2 linked regions of the Homo sapiens genome follow. The protein of the gene in region 2 interacts with the protein of the main gene of each other region in a pairwise test. Each region holds a gene or a part of one and is shown on either strand. Other genes may lie near its edges.

Region 1 (3,500 bases), on a different chromosome or scaffold from region 2:
GAATGCGTTCTCTTTCAATGAAGAATCAAGTTCTTGCCCCTAAAAGTGACTCTCACGTCACATCTCCTGGTGCTGGAATTTGAGCTTATGTCCCTTTACCCCTTGCCCAACCCCTCCTCACCGAAGTGAAGACCTCAGTGGTCTGCTGGATGGTAGCAATCTTCTTCCAGCCCCACTTTTCAAAGAGTTTCACGCGGGTAGGGTTGTGGAGTGTGGCTGATGGGTGCGTTCGGAAGAAAGTGGGGAAACGCTGCCGGTTTGACAGGGCTGGTGAGCTGGAGCCATAGGAAAGCTGTGGGGCAGGGAGAGTGAGTGCAACAGGGTCTGTTCACTGAGGACACCAAGAGTGGCCAAGAGTTCCTTTAACCCTCTTCCTGCCTTTGGGTTTCTCTTCCTTACTCTCTCCAAACCTCCCCACCTCTGGTCTGCCTAAGGAAAAGAGATTCTCAAAGGCCCACACACCCCTCACAACCGGGATGCTCTTTCACTGATCTAATTTCAATTCCTTCTGAAGAAGGAGGTCAGCTGCAGCACTGTCAGGCCACTGTTGCTAGGAGGCTGCCTAGCTCAGGTCTGCAGAGGACTCTGAATCTTAGTAGCAGGTCCTCCACACTCCTTTTCAATACAAACCCACAATCGCCATCGTCCCTTCAGTAGAGCTCAAAAGGGAATGACCCCATCTTCTGACCCCCATAGCCCTGCTTACCACAATGAGGTTCCACATCCTAGCAGCCTCAGCCACCAGCGTGGAGACAGAGCTGCAGCCAGGCATAAGGATGATCTTGATAGGGTCGTTGTAGAGCAGCTCATATAGGTACTTGGTGGCTTGGCCTGGATCACACTGAAAGACAAGAGGAGATGAGGGCAAGCTCTCCTGGGGCCCCTCCCCTGTCTGCAATTCCTGCTCTTATCTTTCTCGAACAAATTAGTTCCTTTCTCAATTACTCACTTTCATCATTAATTACCGTTTTCTTCTCCTTTCTGGCATCTCTTCCTGTCAAGTGCCTTTTTTCTCCTCTTTCATTAAACTTCCTTCTCTGTCTTCCATCTGGAGCCTTACCCATCACCTCTCCTGCACACCCCTCCTTTGGTATTAATGAACATACCACCTTACCTCCTTTCAGCTCACCCTCAGACATCCCCCTTCCCTCTGTCACCAAGCCCTTTACCCCATGTTTCTATGCTTCAAACACCAGTGGGTGGAAGAAGTCAGTAGGAATACGGTAAACTCTTTCCACATCCCCAGATAGCTTGCTCAAAGCCATATTATGAAAATTCCTTCCTCACCTCTGCAAACCCCTTCTCCCCACCTTCCATTTGTTTCCTCCCTCTTCTCTTTTCAGAGCTAGTGATAAGTAAAGAGAGAACAGGAACAAGACCAGTAGGGGGTCCCGCTCAGTGATCCATCCCTCCTGCTGGGCGCTGACATTTGACAGGTCCATTAGAAAAAAAGACACTGGGGGGTGGAAGTAGGGAAGAATGTAGGATGAGGAAAGAACAGAGAGAATGAATAGAATGGAACTCTCAAGAAACCAGACAATTTGAGAGGTGCCTTAAAGAGAGGCTTGGAGCTAGGGAAAGTAAACAAGCAGAAAGCTGGAGAAGAAAGGAAGCTTGGGAGGAGGGGAAATGGGGGAGGAAGAGCCAGCCTTGGGTCTCCCACTGCCTGTTCCCCTCCCACTGATATATGACATTTCAGAAGCTGCTGGAACCCCAATGCATGTGAAGACGAAATGGCAGCCAGTGGGGAGCCAGGGCAGAGGGGACACAGACAGGGGGCTCAGGGGACTAAGGAGGGTGAAATGTTGCCAGGAGGGGAGGATAAGTAGAAAGGAAATAAAGAAAGCACTCTGGAGCCTGCTTACCTCCCACTGAGGCCTGACATTTGGGACACGGTGGGAAGTTGGAGAAGGGGGAGCCAGGGGAAGCTGTTGGAATCTGAAGAACCAGCAGTCACTGAGAATTCTCTGTTGCCCACCCTACCCTCACTCTGGCCAAGGGCAGTGCTCAACAACATTGGAAGGTTTTCTCTTTATGCCTCCCACTAGGGCAACTTTGTAAATCTTTACCATTCTCAGGACCCACCTTCCTGCACTCTCCCCACATCTATTACTCCAGATCCTGCTCCCAGCTTCTCCCACAGCCCCTCAGTGCCCCTCCACTTCTCTAAAGACAGGGTTAATAGGAACAATGAGGACATACAAGAACATATAAGATACATATCAACAGGGCAAGGCATGCCCCCCATTTTGTTTCCTGATTTCTTATCTACCTTTTCTTGCAACCGTTTCCCTCTTCCACACACTATTCATCACTGCAGATTCTCTCCACCACGTGATTCTCTCCCCCTCCCCAATAGATTTCCTTAGTTCTCCTCCCTCTCTTTGCTCTTGCAAGGATCTGGATTTGCAGGCAGGAAACCGACTCATTCCAATTGACACATTCTGGTTCTTCTGCCTTCCCATCCCACCCCGCTTGATGCCTCTGATGTTCTCCAGTTCCCTTCTCCCAGGTCCCACGTCTGCTCCCCGCCACCTCCAGGGAATCACCTGTCATGGTGGATGAGTTTGAGCTCACAGCCAGGCCTCCCCTATCTCCTGTGATCCCCTATCATAAAGCCTGCACCCATCTCTCCCTGTCATTTTCTTCACACTCCACTCCCCAAAACCAATGATCTCTCTGACTGTCCCAAGTCTGACCCTCTACCAGATCTGATCCTCTACTTCTCTTCCTGCCTCCCGTACCCTAATACCTAATTATTTTCCTGTACCCTGCTGCTCTTCCCATAGGCATTCTGGGGTTAGCTTACAGCTCAGGAATCCACCAAGATAGGATGTCTATTAGTAAAAATACAGATAAATACTTGGGATTCATCCCTGACCAAGGAGCTAGAATCTGTATTTTTAACAAACTCCTCTGGTGATTCTTATGTACACTGAAGGCTGAGAACCACGAGAAAGTAACAGTCAAAAAGGATTTTAAGTTCTCTTGCCAAGCTCCTGATAATCCTTGTGCTCTCTTCTCTTCAAGCACCCTACCTTCAACCTCACTTCTGTCCCCTCACACACCTATCCCAGACACACACCTATTTCTAGGTGTATAGTGATGTTCTAAAAATGAATATAAATCCTTGGATCACCCCAAGGTTGATATTTGGTAAGATCACCAAATTCTCACCTTGTGTACTCTATTTCACCCTAACCCAATTCCTTAAGTCTCTGGGGCCACATGTCAGTGAAGATAAATTTGAGATCTTAAATCTCCTTCCCTGTGTCACATCCTTCCCTGCACCCCCAATTATTCATGTAGGGGAGAGGGGTGGGAAAAAAAACCTCATTATAAGCTATCCCCTAATACCCCTGGACCCAAATTTGCTTACCTTCTCTCTCTCCCTCAACTCACCTCCCTAATCCCTACATCCCATTTCCCTTCTCACATCCTAGAGGCCACAATGCTATAAGGGAAGGGAAGGTCAGGACCCAAGTTCCATAAGGTGCCCC
Region 2 (4,457 bases):
ATTGATAACTATATCACCCTAATGTGCTATCAAACACTAGAACCTATTCCCTCTACCCAACTTTCTATCTATTCCTTCTACCCATTAGCCAACCTGACCAAAAAGGTAAGCTTTTATGGCAGAGAACTCTCTGGATCTTAGTGAAGGTTCCTAGAATAGTGGAGCTGACTATCATAATCTTGACAACCCCAAATAAATCAGTTTTTTAAAAAATCTCTTTTATCCATGTGGCTTACCATAACCTCCCTGCATGAATTTTTCTGATGAATCTCCCCAATTTGTTAGACAGAACAGAAGATCTTGCCCTGCTCTCTCTAAAGCAGAAAGGTTCATTCTGAACCTTTCATACTCTCTCACATGTGCCAAGGAGGACCCCAATGTCACTTTTGTTTTTTGCTTCTGAAATACAGAGGGTGCACTGCCACTTACAAGTCACTACAAAGCATACAGGCTTGCATCCTCAACAGGGATATAGGTCTAATGAAGCCTTGGCCTTTGCCCCTCAGGTGAACCTGGATTCTTGCACCAGGGAAGAGACAAGCCGGAACATGCTAGAGCCTACAATAACCTGCTTTGATGAGGCCCAGAAGAAGATTTTCAACCTGATGGAGAAGGATTCCTACCGCCGCTTCCTCAAGTCTCGATTCTATCTTGATTTGGTCAACCCGTCCAGCTGTGGGGCAGAAAAGCAGAAAGGAGCCAAGAGTTCAGCAGACTGTGCTTCCCTGGTCCCTCAGTGTGCCTAATTCTCACCTGAAGGCAGAGGGATGAAATGCCAAGACTCTATGCTCTGGAAAACCTGAGGCCAAATATTGATCTGTATTAAGCTCCAGTGCTTTATCCACATTGTAGCCTAATATTCATGCTGCCTGCCATGTGTGAGTCACTTCTACGCATAAACTAGATATAGCTTTTGGTGTTTGAGTGTTCATCAGGGTGGGACCCCATTCCAGTCCAATTTTCCTAAGTTTCTTTGAGGGTTCCATGGGAGCAAATATCTAAATAATGGCCTGGTAGGTCTGGATTTTCAAAGATTGTTGGCAGTTTCCTCCTCCCAACAGTTTTACCTCGGGATGGTTGGTTAGTGCATGTCACATGACATCCACATGCACATGTATTCTGTTGGCCAGCACGTTCTCCAGACTCTAGATGTTTAGATGAGGTTGAGCTATGATATGTGCTTGTGTGTATGTCTATGTGTATATATTATATATACATTAGACACACATATACATTATTTCTGTATATAGATGTCTGTGTATACATATGTATGTGTGAGTGTATGTATACACACACACACACACACACACACACACTTTTGCAAGAGTGATGGGAAAGACCCTAGGTGCTCATAACTAGAGTATGTGTATGTACTTACATGGGTGTTTTGATCTCTGTTCTTTCATACTACATTTGAACAGGGCAAAATGAACTAACTGCCATGTAGGCTAAGAAAGAAATGCTAACCTGTGGAAAGTTGGTTTTGTAAAATTCCATGGATCTTGCTGGAGAAGCATCCAAGGAACTTCATGCTTGATTTGACCACTGACAGCCTCCACCTTGAGCACTATTCTAAGGAGCAAATACCTTAGCTCCCTTGAGCTGGTTTTCTCTGATGGCACTTTTGAGCTCCTAAGCTGCCAGCCTTCCCTTCTTTTCCTGGGTGCTCAGGGCATGCTTATTAGCAGCTGGGTTGGTATGGAGTTGGCAGACAGGATGTTCAACTTAATGAAGAAATACAGCTAAGGCCTTGCCAGCAACACCTGCCGTAAGTTACTGGCTGAGTGAGGGCATAGAAGTTAAAGGTTACTGTTTTTATCCTCTATCCTTTTTTCCTTTCCTGATCAAGGTGCTCTTCTCATTTTTTCCTGAGAACCTTAGCCATCAGATGAGGCTCCTTAGTTTATTGTGGTTGGTTGTTTTTTCTTTATAATGGCTCTGGGCTATATGCCTATATTTATAAACCAGCAGCAGGGGAAAGATTATATTTTATAAGAGGGAACAAATTTTCACAATTTGAAAAGCCCACATAAGTTTTCTCTTTTAAGGTAGAATCTTGTTAATTTCATTCCAAACATCGGGGCTAACAGAGACTGGAGGCATTTCTTTTTAGGCTCTGAGACTAAATGAGAGGAAAAGAAAAGAAAAAAAAAATGATTGTCTAACCAATTGTGAGAATTACTGTTTGAAACTTTTCAAGGCACATTGAAATACTTGAAAACTTCTCATTTATGTTATTTATGATGTTATTTTGTACGTGTTATTATTATTATATTGTTTTATAAATGGAGGTACAGGATATCACCTGAATTATTAATGAATGCCCAGGAAGTAATTTTCTTCTCATTCTTCTAAAACTACTGCCTTTCAAAGTGCACACACACGCGTCCACATACACTGCATTCGTTGCTCCAGTATAAATTACATGCATGAGCACCTTTCTGGCTTTTAAGCCAATATAATGGGCTGCAAAATGAAGACACCAGAGTGTATGCATACAAATCTCACTGTATTAAAGATGCAGGTTTTCTAATTGTACCCTTCTTGTCTCTCTGGCAATCTTGCCCTTAATATCCCTGGAGTTCCTCATCAGTGTCATTTTCTGTTATACACAGTTCCACAATTTTGTCTCTAGTTGACTTCAAATGTGTAACTTTATTGGTCTTGCCCTATTATAATTGTCATGACTTTCAGATTGTATCTGAACTCACAGACTGCTGTCTTACTAATAGGTCTGGAAGGTCACGCTGAATGAGAAGTAAATTATTTTATGTAATACATTTTTGAGTGTGTTTTTCAGTTGTATTTCCCTGTTATTTCATCACTATTTCCAATGGTGAGCTTGCCTGCTCATGCTCCCTGGACAGAATACTCCTTCCTTTTGCATGCCTGTTTCTATCATGTGCTTGATAGGCCTCAAAGCTAATGCTTCCAGTGAAACACACGCATCTTAATAATAAGGGTAAATAAACGCTCCATATGAAACTATTTGCTTGGAAACACATTAATGATCCAGAGACATGCTATGAGAAACATCAGGGTGTAGGGTGACTTTAGAAAAATACTCATACTGAGTCTTTAATCCCTCCTGTGCCAGTGAACTCTGGGAAAGAAAGTACAAACTGAATATTGTTTATTCTTTAGTTCATGCCACTGCTCTGCTTGGCTCTACTCATAGAACCAAGGCAATCTTAGCTTCAGAGACTGCAAAACAGATTAAGTGATTTGCTTGCAGATTCTCAATCAATTTTCAAGGGATAGAGTTCACCTTCCAGAGCCATTCTTTTATTTCCAGTTACCCGCCTGTTTGAGAGATGATAGAGCAGTGGGAAATTGAGAGAGTTGAAAGGAGCTATAGATTCTTACCCAAACTTCAAAAATCCTTCCCTCCCTTTTGTTAATTCTCTTTCCTGGAAAAGAGGTCATAAAATGTTCACATCCTCAGTAATAGGCCCTGTGCTGTGTCTATTATGTCATGAGACTCCCATTTCCTGACCCTTCTTTCCCATTGTAAGAGTAGTAGTTACAAGGTGTTAAGGATAGATGATCTTCAACACTTTTGAGAAATAGATCCATTTACGGATCTGGTAAAAACTATGGACCGAACCATCTTTTAAGAAAAAAATTCAGAGAGGAATCTAAATTTTGTGTGCTTTGAGGGGAAACTCTCAGAATCTCCCCTCAAAACTATCATTCTTCTCTTATACTATAGATGTGTCAGACTCTCACTGGGACTGTATAGTTGCTGCTCCCTGTATTTGATAATATCTATCAAGAACTGCAGGGTAATTCAAAGTCACGCTATTAGCAGCAAGTGTGAGCAGTGTTGGTTTCCCCAGTCTCTACATCCCTCATCCTTTCTTTCTTCTTTATGGTTGTCTATTAAAGAAATAAAAAAAAATATTGGCTGACCGTTTTTCTGAAGATAATGTATATCAAGGACCACCTTTTGAAAAACACTCATTATTCGAGAACAAAGACACAACATACGAGAATCTCTGGGATACATTCAAAGCAGTGTGTAGAGGGAAATTTATAGCACTAAATGCCCACAAGAGAAAGCAGGAAAGATCTAAAATTGATACCCTAACATCACAATTAAAAGAACTAGAAAAGCAAGAGCAAACACATTCAAAAGCTAGCAGAAGACAAGAAATAACTAAGATCAGAGCAGAACTGAAGGAAATAGAGACACAAAAAACCCTTCAAAAAATTAATGAATCCAGGAGCTGGTTTTTTGAAAAGATTAACAAAATTGATAGACTGCTAGCAAGACTAATAAAGAAGAAAAGAGAGAAGAATCAAATAGACACAATAAAAAATGATAAAGGGGATATCACCACCGATCCCACAGAAATACAAACTACCATCAGAGAATACTATAAACACCTCTACGCAAATAAACTAGAAAATCTAGAAGAAATGGATAAATTCCTCGATACATACACCCTCCCAAG

Evidence for each region.
Region 1: the proteins of RGS4 (region 2) and GABBR1 come close enough for resonance energy transfer, tested with the Homo sapiens proteins (one study listed by BioGRID).

Annotation. Positions count from the first base shown.
Region 1 is NC_000006.12:29,623,184-29,626,683, forward strand, and holds part of GABBR1 (gamma-aminobutyric acid type B receptor subunit 1 isoform a precursor), read right to left. Parts: intron 842-3,500; coding exon 707-841; intron 293-706; coding exon 122-292; intron 1-121.
Region 2 is NC_000001.11:163,073,815-163,078,271, forward strand, and holds the end of RGS4 (regulator of G-protein signaling 4), read left to right. Parts: intron 1-506; coding exon 507-746; 3' UTR 747-2,988; downstream 2,989-4,457. UniProt on the Homo sapiens protein: Inhibits signal transduction by increasing the GTPase activity of G protein alpha subunits thereby driving them into their inactive GDP-bound form. Activity on G(z)-alpha is inhibited by phosphorylation of the G-protein.